2 linked regions of the Homo sapiens genome follow. The protein of the gene in region 1 interacts with the protein of each later gene in a pairwise test. Each region holds a gene or a part of one and is shown in the gene's direction. Other genes may lie near its edges.

What was found. Proteins that work in one complex are often made in the same cells at the same time.
Region 2: the proteins of MYBPC2 (region 1) and TRIP11 interact in a two-hybrid assay, tested with the Homo sapiens proteins (one large-scale study listed by BioGRID and IntAct).

Annotation. Positions count from the first base shown.
Region 1 is NC_000019.10:50,459,688-50,464,484, forward strand, and holds part of MYBPC2 (myosin-binding protein C, fast-type), read left to right. Parts: intron 1-352; coding exon 353-492; intron 493-1,854; coding exon 1,855-2,014; intron 2,015-2,212; coding exon 2,213-2,349; intron 2,350-4,658; coding exon 4,659-4,797. UniProt on the Homo sapiens protein: Thick filament-associated protein located in the crossbridge region of vertebrate striated muscle a bands. In vitro it binds MHC, F-actin and native thin filaments, and modifies the activity of actin-activated myosin ATPase.
Region 2 is NC_000014.9:92,037,260-92,041,344, reverse strand, and holds the start of TRIP11 (thyroid receptor-interacting protein 11), read left to right. Parts: upstream 1-1,285; 5' UTR 1,286-1,659; coding exon 1,660-1,798; intron 1,799-4,085.

The DNA of each region.
Region 1 (4,797 bases):
GGAGGGGGAGAGGAGGTGAAAAGATGAGGTGGGGGAGACTAGATAAGGAGCAAGGCAAGTACCAGGGCTAGGAGTGGAGGAGAGATGAAGATGGGGGAACCCTTGAGAGGGAGATTGGGTGAAGAGAGGAAGTGGGGAGACATGGGGGTGAGGAGAGGAGGTGAGGAGGGATGAGGGTGGCCCAGGATAAGAGGAAGTGGAGAGACTGGGATGGGGGAGGCCATAGGCAGGAATGGGAATGGGGCATAAGAGAGGTTAGAATCAGGAGGGAGGGGGTGTGGAGAGGGGAGGGGAGGGAAGCGGCTGGACATCCCAAAACCTGGACTGACTTGTCACACTTCCCCATTTCCAGAAAAGGCTGGGCCCCCCATAAACGTGATGGTGAAGGAGGTGTGGGGCACGAACGCGCTGGTGGAGTGGCAGGCCCCCAAAGATGATGGGAACAGTGAGATCATGGGGTATTTCGTCCAGAAAGCAGACAAAAAAACCATGGTGAGAGAGCAGAGGGGGAGATGGGGAAGAGCCGGTGAGGTGGGCAGAGCAGGTGCAGATGTCCCCCGTTCACAGCTGGAAGGGCAGGGAGGGGCCCAGAGGCTAGAGGACGGGCTGGGGCCAGGAGGGAAGCCTTTTAGCTGAGACTTGGCACGTGATGGGTTTTCATTTTCTTTTTTCACTGAGGTAAACGTCACATAACGGAATTAGTCATTCATCGTTTTAAAGCGAACAATTCAGCAGCACTTAGGACATCTGCAGGGTTGTGCAGCCACCGCCTCTACCCAGTCCATTTTCATCCCCCAGAGGAAGCCCTGTACCCAATAGCGCTACCCCCTGGTCTCCCCTGGCAGCCACCGATTTGCTTTCTGTCTCCCTGGATTTACCTACTCTGGACATTTCATACACATGGAATCCTAGCTATGTGACCCTTGTGTCTGACTTTGTTAGCTCAGCACAACGTCTTTGAAGTTCATCCATGCTGCAGGGTGCCGGGTGTGTCCATGCAGAAATCCTGTTTTTAGAATTCTTTTTTTTGAGACAGGGTCTTACTCTGTCACCCAGGCTGGAGTGCAGTGGTGCAATCTTGGCTCACTGCCTTCTCTGCCTCTGAGCTCAGGTGATTCCCCCCCATCTCAGCCTCCCATGTAGCTGGGAATACAGGCACGTGCCACCACATCCCGCTAATTTTTGTAGAGACAGGGTCTCAGTATGTTGTCCAGGCTGGTCTCGAACTCCTGGACCCAAGTCATCCTCCCACCTTGGCCTCCCAAAGTGTTGGGATTACAGGCATGAGCCACTGCACCTGGCCTTTATTTCTTTTAAATTTTTTTTTTTTTTTTGAGACAGGGTCTTACTCTGTCACCCAAGCTGGAATGCAGTGGCATGATCATGGCTCACTGCAGCCTCCAACCCGCAGGTTCAGGCAATCCTCCTCCCTCAGCCTCCCAAGTAGCTGGGACTACAGGTGCTGGCCACCAGACCTGGCTAATTTTTTGATTTTTTTAACAGACAAGGGTCTCGCCGGGTTGCCCACTCTGGTCTCAAACTCCCAGGCTCAAGCGAGCCTCCCACCTCGGCCTCCCAAAGAGCTGGGATTACAGGCATGAGCCACGGTGCCTGACCCCTTCTTAGCGTTGAATGATGTTCCTTTGTCTGGGCCGACTGTTTTGTTTGTCCATCCCTGCGCTGATGGGCGCTGGGTTGGTTCCACCTGTTGGCCACTGTGAGTAGTGCGCCATGAGTGACATTTTTTTAAACACTGGATGTGCTTTTCTCACCCCTTCTTTCGTCTGTGTCTTGTGTGTAATCGTGTGATCCTGTGGCCCCGACCCGCCTGGTCCCTCCCTGTCCCCACACTAGGAGTGGTTCAACGTCTATGAACGTAACAGGCACACTAGCTGTACTGTGTCCGACCTTATCGTGGGCAATGAATACTATTTCCGAGTTTACACCGAGAACATCTGTGGGCTCAGTGACTCACCTGGTGTCTCCAAGAACACGGCCCGCATCCTCAAGACAGGTACAGCCATCCTGCCCCACAGCCCAGGCCCACCCCGTCCACCCTCTCGCCCAGGTCCCACCTGGACTCCTGCCCTCCCCTCCCCACTGGGGTTGACGGCACCTAGTCATGGGAGAGAGGTGATTGCGGTTTGTTCCCTGGTTGGTGTCAGGGGAGAATCTAGATCAGTCGCCTTACGGGTGCATCCTCTCTCCCCAGGAATCACCTTCAAACCGTTCGAGTATAAGGAGCATGACTTCCGGATGGCTCCCAAGTTCCTGACACCTCTCATAGACCGCGTGGTCGTGGCTGGGTACTCGGCAGCCCTCAACTGTGCTGTCAGAGGCCACCCGAAGGTGCCAGGGCAGGGACCCAGATCTGCGTGTGTGTTGCCTTGTGGGGAATCTTCCATACAATGAAGCCCACTCCCCATCACGCCAGTTCTTCTTCCCCGAGTTCTCTGTCTCAAGGGATTTAGTCACTTAAAAAATTTTTTTAATTGATTTTTGATTTTTTTTTTTTTTGAGACAGGGTCTTGCTGTATCACCCAGGCTGGAGTGCAGTGGCACGATCACAGCTCACTGCAACTTTGACCTCCTGGGTTCAAGTGATCCTCCTACCTCATCCTCCCGAGTAGCTGGGACCACAGGCATGAACCACTGTGGCCAGCTAATTTTATAATTTGTAGAGATGGGGTCTTGCTATGTTGTCCAGGCTGGTCTTGAACTCCTAGGCTCAAGTGATTCTCCCGCCTCGGCCTCCCAAAGTGCTGGGATTACAGGTGTGAGCCACCACGCCCAGACTGGACTTGCTCACTTTTCACCCACTTCCTGTTAGCTCCTCTGACCAGAGCCCAAGTCTCAGACAATCAATCACATCTTGCCTTTGGCTTCCTGCCTTTTTCCTTCTTTCTTTCTTTTTTTTTCTTTCTTTCCTGAGACCAGGCTGGAGTGCAGTGGTGCGATCTTGGCTCACTGCAACCGCCTCCCAAGTTCAAGCGATTCTCCTGTCTCAGCCTCCTGAGTAGCTAGGATTACAGGCGTGCACCACCATGCCCAGCTAAATTTTGTATTTTTAGTAGAGACGGCGTTTTGCTGACCTCAGGTGATCCGCCTGCCTCAGCCTCCCAAAGTGCTGGGATTACAGGCATGAGCCACCGCTCCTGGCCTCTTGCCTTTTTCTTTGTCCCCTGACTGCCAGGTAACAGCTTGTCTCGGCAGCTTGAGGAGAGGACCATTAAGTCTCTCTTGCTCTGTCCAAGGACAAATGCCAGTCCCATGGAAAAAGAAACGTTGGGAGCAGGGGCAGCCTAGACCAGCACGGCTCCCCAGGGTCTTCCTGTCCAGCCATTTTCCAACTGCTCTTTGTGAACAGGGACACTTGCAACCTAGAGCTCATTTAGACCAGGGGTTGGCAAACCATCACCCATGGGTCAAATCCACCCACCACCTGTTTCTCTCAATAAAGTTTTATTGGAACACGGGCCAAGCATATTTGTTTATGTTTTGTTTACAGCTACTGCAGACAAAATGTAAATAAATGTGCGTGGCTCGCGTTCCAGGCCCAGAGACTACAGGGCCCAAAAAGCCTGAATTATTTACCATCTGGTCCTTTATAGGAACAGTTTGCCAGCTTCTGGTCTGGGCTGTAGGTTATTCGCTTCAGCCTCCTTAAGGCATACCATGTCTCCATCTCTGTATACTGTATTCACTAACTCCACTCATTCATGTCACTCATTCCACTCATTTATCCACCTACCAATCCATCCATTTACTCAGTTCATTCCTTCACTCCATTTGCTTATTTACAGCACTGTTTCGTGCTCTCATTCATTTATTCACTCCATTTATTCTTACAACAAACATTTTCAGAGGCTTTCAATGACCTGGGTGATTCGAACAAGAAATTTCCTGTATGTTGGGGGAGACTGACATTTGCCCAGAGTCACATAAATAATATAAAATTATGAAGGGCTGGGCCAGACACGGTGGCTCACACCTGTAATCCCAGCACTTTGGGAGGCCGAGGCGGGCAGATCACCTGAGGTCAGGAGTTTGAGACCAGCCTGGCCAACATGGTGAAACCCCATCTCTACTAAAAATACAAAAACTAGCCAGGCATGGTGGCAGGCGCCTCTAATCCCAACCACTTGGGAAGCTGAGGCAGGATAATTGCTTAAACCCGGGAGGTGGAGGTTACAGTGAGCCAAGATCACGCCACTGCACTCCAGCCTGGGAGACAAAGCGAGATTCTGTCTCAAAAAAAAAAAAAAAAGGGAAGGGCACTATGGAAGAGGGAACAGCCAGTGCCAGCGTCCTGAGGTGGGTGCCTGTCTGGTCTGTTTGAAGGACAGTGAGGTAGCCTGTTTGGCTGGAGCAGAGAAGTAATGGGGGTCAAAGAGTGTGGGACCCTGTGGGCCACTACAAACAGTGAGCTCTTTGTCCTGAGAGCAATGGGAAGACCCCACCGTTACCCTGTGAAGTGGGATTATCAACCTGCTTTTACATAAGAGGAGACTGAGGGTCAGGGAGAAGTGACTCGTCCAAGAACATCTGGCAAGAGGGTGGCAGAGCCTAGAACCCAGATCGGCTTCCTGAGCCCCATTTTGTCATCATTGCCCAGGGTCTCTCTCTAAGTTGGCCTCCTCTCCCTTGACTCTCAACAGCCGAAGGTGGTCTGGATGAAGAACAAGATGGAAATCCGTGAAGATCCCAAGTTCCTGATAACCAATTACCAAGGAGTCCTGACGCTGAACATCCGTCGCCCCTCGCCCTTCGACGCTGGGACTTACACCTGCCGGGCCG
Region 2 (4,085 bases), on another chromosome or scaffold:
GAAGAATGGGCGCCTGTAGTCCCAGCTACTTGGGAGCCTGAGGCAGGAGAATCGCTTTAACCCGGGAGACGAGGTTGCAGTGAGCCTAGGTCCCGCCATTGCACTCCAGCCTGGGCCACAGAGCGAGGCTCCATCTCAAAAAATAAAATTTAAAAAAAAAAAATTCAGCTTTCACGGAGAATTACTACTGCCTGGTGCCATCAGATCCCAAATACTGGAGGCATTCCCAATGTTCTGTTCACAAACTGTGCAATCTGTGATAGCCCCTCTTGTGAATATAATCAAAGTGAAAGATGCCAGTATACTTATTGCTATGCTTAAAAGAACTGCAGATCTATCATATCCTTTTGAAACCAAAAAATGTGGAAGTCTCCCTGGCTAGATGCTGTGTGTCCACGTATCCTGCACCAATTGCTTGAAAGTCACATGACAACCTTTCTTCCTTTAGGGAAGGAAGCAAGCAAGGTAGGACTCTGTGTGTTACAGCCAGTGTGGGTAACTAAGGACTGAGGGAGGTGTGGGCACTTGCATAGCTAGTGCCGCCAATACCATAGGAGCGTTGACACTAAACGGCACTTCTCTATTAAGTTGCCCTGCTGTCTTCTAACGAGTCATTTTGAAAAACGGTTGTCCGTTTTTCAACTACTTGGGTGAGGGCAGCTTCATGAAAAAAGCTCATCGTATGTTAAAGAAGGTAGGGTTTCAATTGTGAGCTATAAAGCCACCAGAGGAGATTTCTCCTATAGAAGGAAGGTGTGTTTCCTGCTTGGACACCTGAATTTGCAACCCATCCTTTCTTTTTTCCTTTTTCCTTTTTTTTTTTTGCAACCCATCCGTTCTATCTTTGTAGCCTCAGCTCCTACCATAGTGCCTGTCACGGAGCAGCTAATCGACACAGTGACGCGTGTAAGTTATTTGAAGCCACTTCCTGCGCAGTGGAACGTCCCCGCCAAGTCTCCCGGCACTGCTGGGTGTAGTCCCAATTAAAACACTAGGTTTCAACAACACAAGGAGGGTCCGCAGGGTCCCCGGACTACCCACCAAGGGTCGGCTCTGCTTTGAAACGCAGCTGCAGGAGGCCGAGGAGCGCCGCGATGCCCCAGTTATCCAGGCCATTCCTTCCCCGGCCGAAGCTGGCCGCCTGCATGCACCTAACCTTGCGCTAGGCACTGGCTGCGGTTAATCCAGCCCGCGCTCGGTCCTCCGCGATCCCAGCCTCCCTTGCGCCAAGGACACGTCCGGCGGCTTCGCGGGGCCTGTCTACGCCACCGCGGCGCTTTTCTATGATCCGCTGCCGCTTTCCGAGCGAGTGTCATGGCGGCCGGCGTCGAGTTGGCAGGAGTAACCCACGGAACTGAGGAAAGTCATTAGAGCTGAGAAAGAAGTGGCCCAATCTGGACGGTGGGAATTCGTGGGAATGAGCAGAAGGCCCTCCGTAGGTGACTGTGTCACTAGAGGCGGGCCCCTGGTAAAATTCCAGGCCAGGCCTCTGCGTTTCTAGGCAGAACCTGGAGTCGGCCTTGCCTGAGAACCCAGCTTTGTGTTATCGTATCCTGTCTCGCGAAGGCAGGCGTTCAAGGATATTTGGTCGGATCGCCCGGCGGCGCTAAACGTTTTCTTTTTTCCGAGCGGACCGGGTCGTTCTCTAAACTCGCCGCGATGTCGTCCTGGCTTGGGGGCCTCGGCTCCGGATTGGGCCAGTCTCTGGGTCAAGTCGGGGGCAGCCTGGCTTCCCTCACTGGCCAGATATCAAACTTTACAAAGGATATGCTGATGGAGGGCACGGAGGAAGTGGAAGGTAACAGCTGGAGCGAGGGAAGGGAGGGCTTTTCTAAGACCCTGGGAACGTCCGTTTGGTCCCTACTTCCATCAGTCAGGAGACGCGGACAGGTCGCAAAGGAATGCTGCTCCTCCCTTTTTTCTTCACACACCTCCTCTTGCCTCTTCTCAACAGATTTTCTATGATGAAAGACCACTGGGGGCCAGGGGAAGAGTCCTGGTTCTCCTCTCTTTAAATATTCTGGATATCTCAAAGTACAGTAGAGTGAAACTGCTCCTACGTTAAGTCGAGTTTATTTTCGTTTGGTTGATCCACGCCCACCACTTTGCCCTCAGTTTGGGGGCTGATCTCATTCTTAACATCTTCCTGTATTCTGACCCAGTTTAAAGAATTGTATATCTGTTTTCTATTTTTGTAACAGTTGAAATAACTCATAATTTAAACACTTGGTGAGTTTTGCTCTTTTCTGTCTTGAGTATGTTATGAAACACGGCCATGTTTTTCTATTTAATTATTTTTTACTTTTCCTTATTGTGATGATACATTATAGCGTTCCAGCTGAGAATGTATTTTTGTGTATAATCGCCCATTTCGCCCATATTTCGACAGTAGAATAGGGAAGACAACCCTATTCTTAAGGTACCCTTAGCAATCTTCACTCATTTTTGAAGTCCTCAATCTCGTTTTACTAATGAATAGTGACCCAGAGTTACATGGTAATCAATGGCTACATTAGTTACTATCCATTAATTACTATTTTGATTTCTTGGCATTTTAGTAAGCAATGTTTGGATCAAAACAGTTTTTAAGTTTCAATCTAAGTCTGCTCCAGGGAGATAATGGGCTGTTCTTTTGGGTGAGAGCTGCTGCTTTGACAATTGTATTTCTTATAAATAAATTTAATAAATTAGTATTCTGGCTTAGTTTTTTTTTTTAATTGCTAATTTAACAGATCCTTCATATTTATTTGGTAGAAATCGGGAAAGATTGTTTGATAGAAAGATAATGCTTATGTTTTGAATTTCTGTGGGGTCTATTTAGATGGAAGGAAGAATAGACTGGGGAGCTACCGAAATCCATTTTACCGCTTTACGTTCCCCATGCCATAAAGGTGCATCAGTGAGACAGCTTTGGGGATAGAAATGAAAGGGCTTCTTTATGTGTGGGGGAAAGCATGGGACCTTGAGGGCAGTCAGAAGCACAGAAGGGCTGGATAACTATGGGAAATGACTGGTCGCTCCTTGTATCCTAGATAGGGGAAAACGGTTGGCTGTTCCTTAGACCCTAAGCCAGAGAATATGCATCCCTCAACCTGGATGTCTTCCAGGTTTAAGGTGGTGTTCATTTTGTTCTCCTGCCAAATGTGCTGTTTTCTCATTCTTAATAGCTTCACTCTCAGTTTCCTAAACTGTAAATCTTCGTGTCCTTGTTTTATGTCTTTTTTCATCTCCTACTTCCAGTTGGTCATGATATCTTGTTTATCCTATGCCAGAATTGTCCTTTGCTTTATTACTCCTTATTCTTTAGATCCCTATAATCTTTCCCAGGGACTATTCCTCTTTCATGTCCTGTCACCCATTTCTCCCTACCCCAGTCCATTTTCTATTGTATTGTCAGTTACTTTCTAAAAACAAACCTGCGTAAAAATTTCTTGACCCTGTTACAGAATAAAATCCAAACCTCTTAGTTTTGGACTGAGTCTCACTCTGTTGCGTAGGCTGGATGCAGTGGCGCGATCTCGGCTCGCTGCAACCTTCGCCTCCCGGGTTCAAGCAATTCTCCTGCCTCAGCCTCCCAAGTAGCTGGGATTACAGGCGTGTGCCACCACACCTGGCTAATTTTTGTATTTTTAGTAGAGATGGGGTTTCGCCATGTTGGCCAGGCTGATCTCGAACTCCTGAGACCGCAGGTGATCCTCCTGCCTTGGCCTCCCAGAGTGCTGGGATTACAGGCGTGAGCCACCGCACCCGACCTTCAATGTACCTTTTCTAGTTGCCATACCAGTTGCTGTACATGTGCACATATATATGCTTGCTTGTACGCACAGCTTCTGTCGTGTGGGATTTTGTCAGGCACTTACACAACTTCAAGCCTCTACATGGAAAGCCCTTTCTTCTCTATTTCCTCCTTCACCCAGAAAACAATTCTCCTGTACAACCCTGCTCATATGTCAGGTACTTAAGTACTTGGTGAACCATTCTGACTCCCACACAGGTTGAGTTGTTGAGTTGAATGTTGGTGATCTGTGTTCTAACAGAACTTTGTGGATCTCTCCCTGACAGCATTTAACATGTTGAGTTATAAT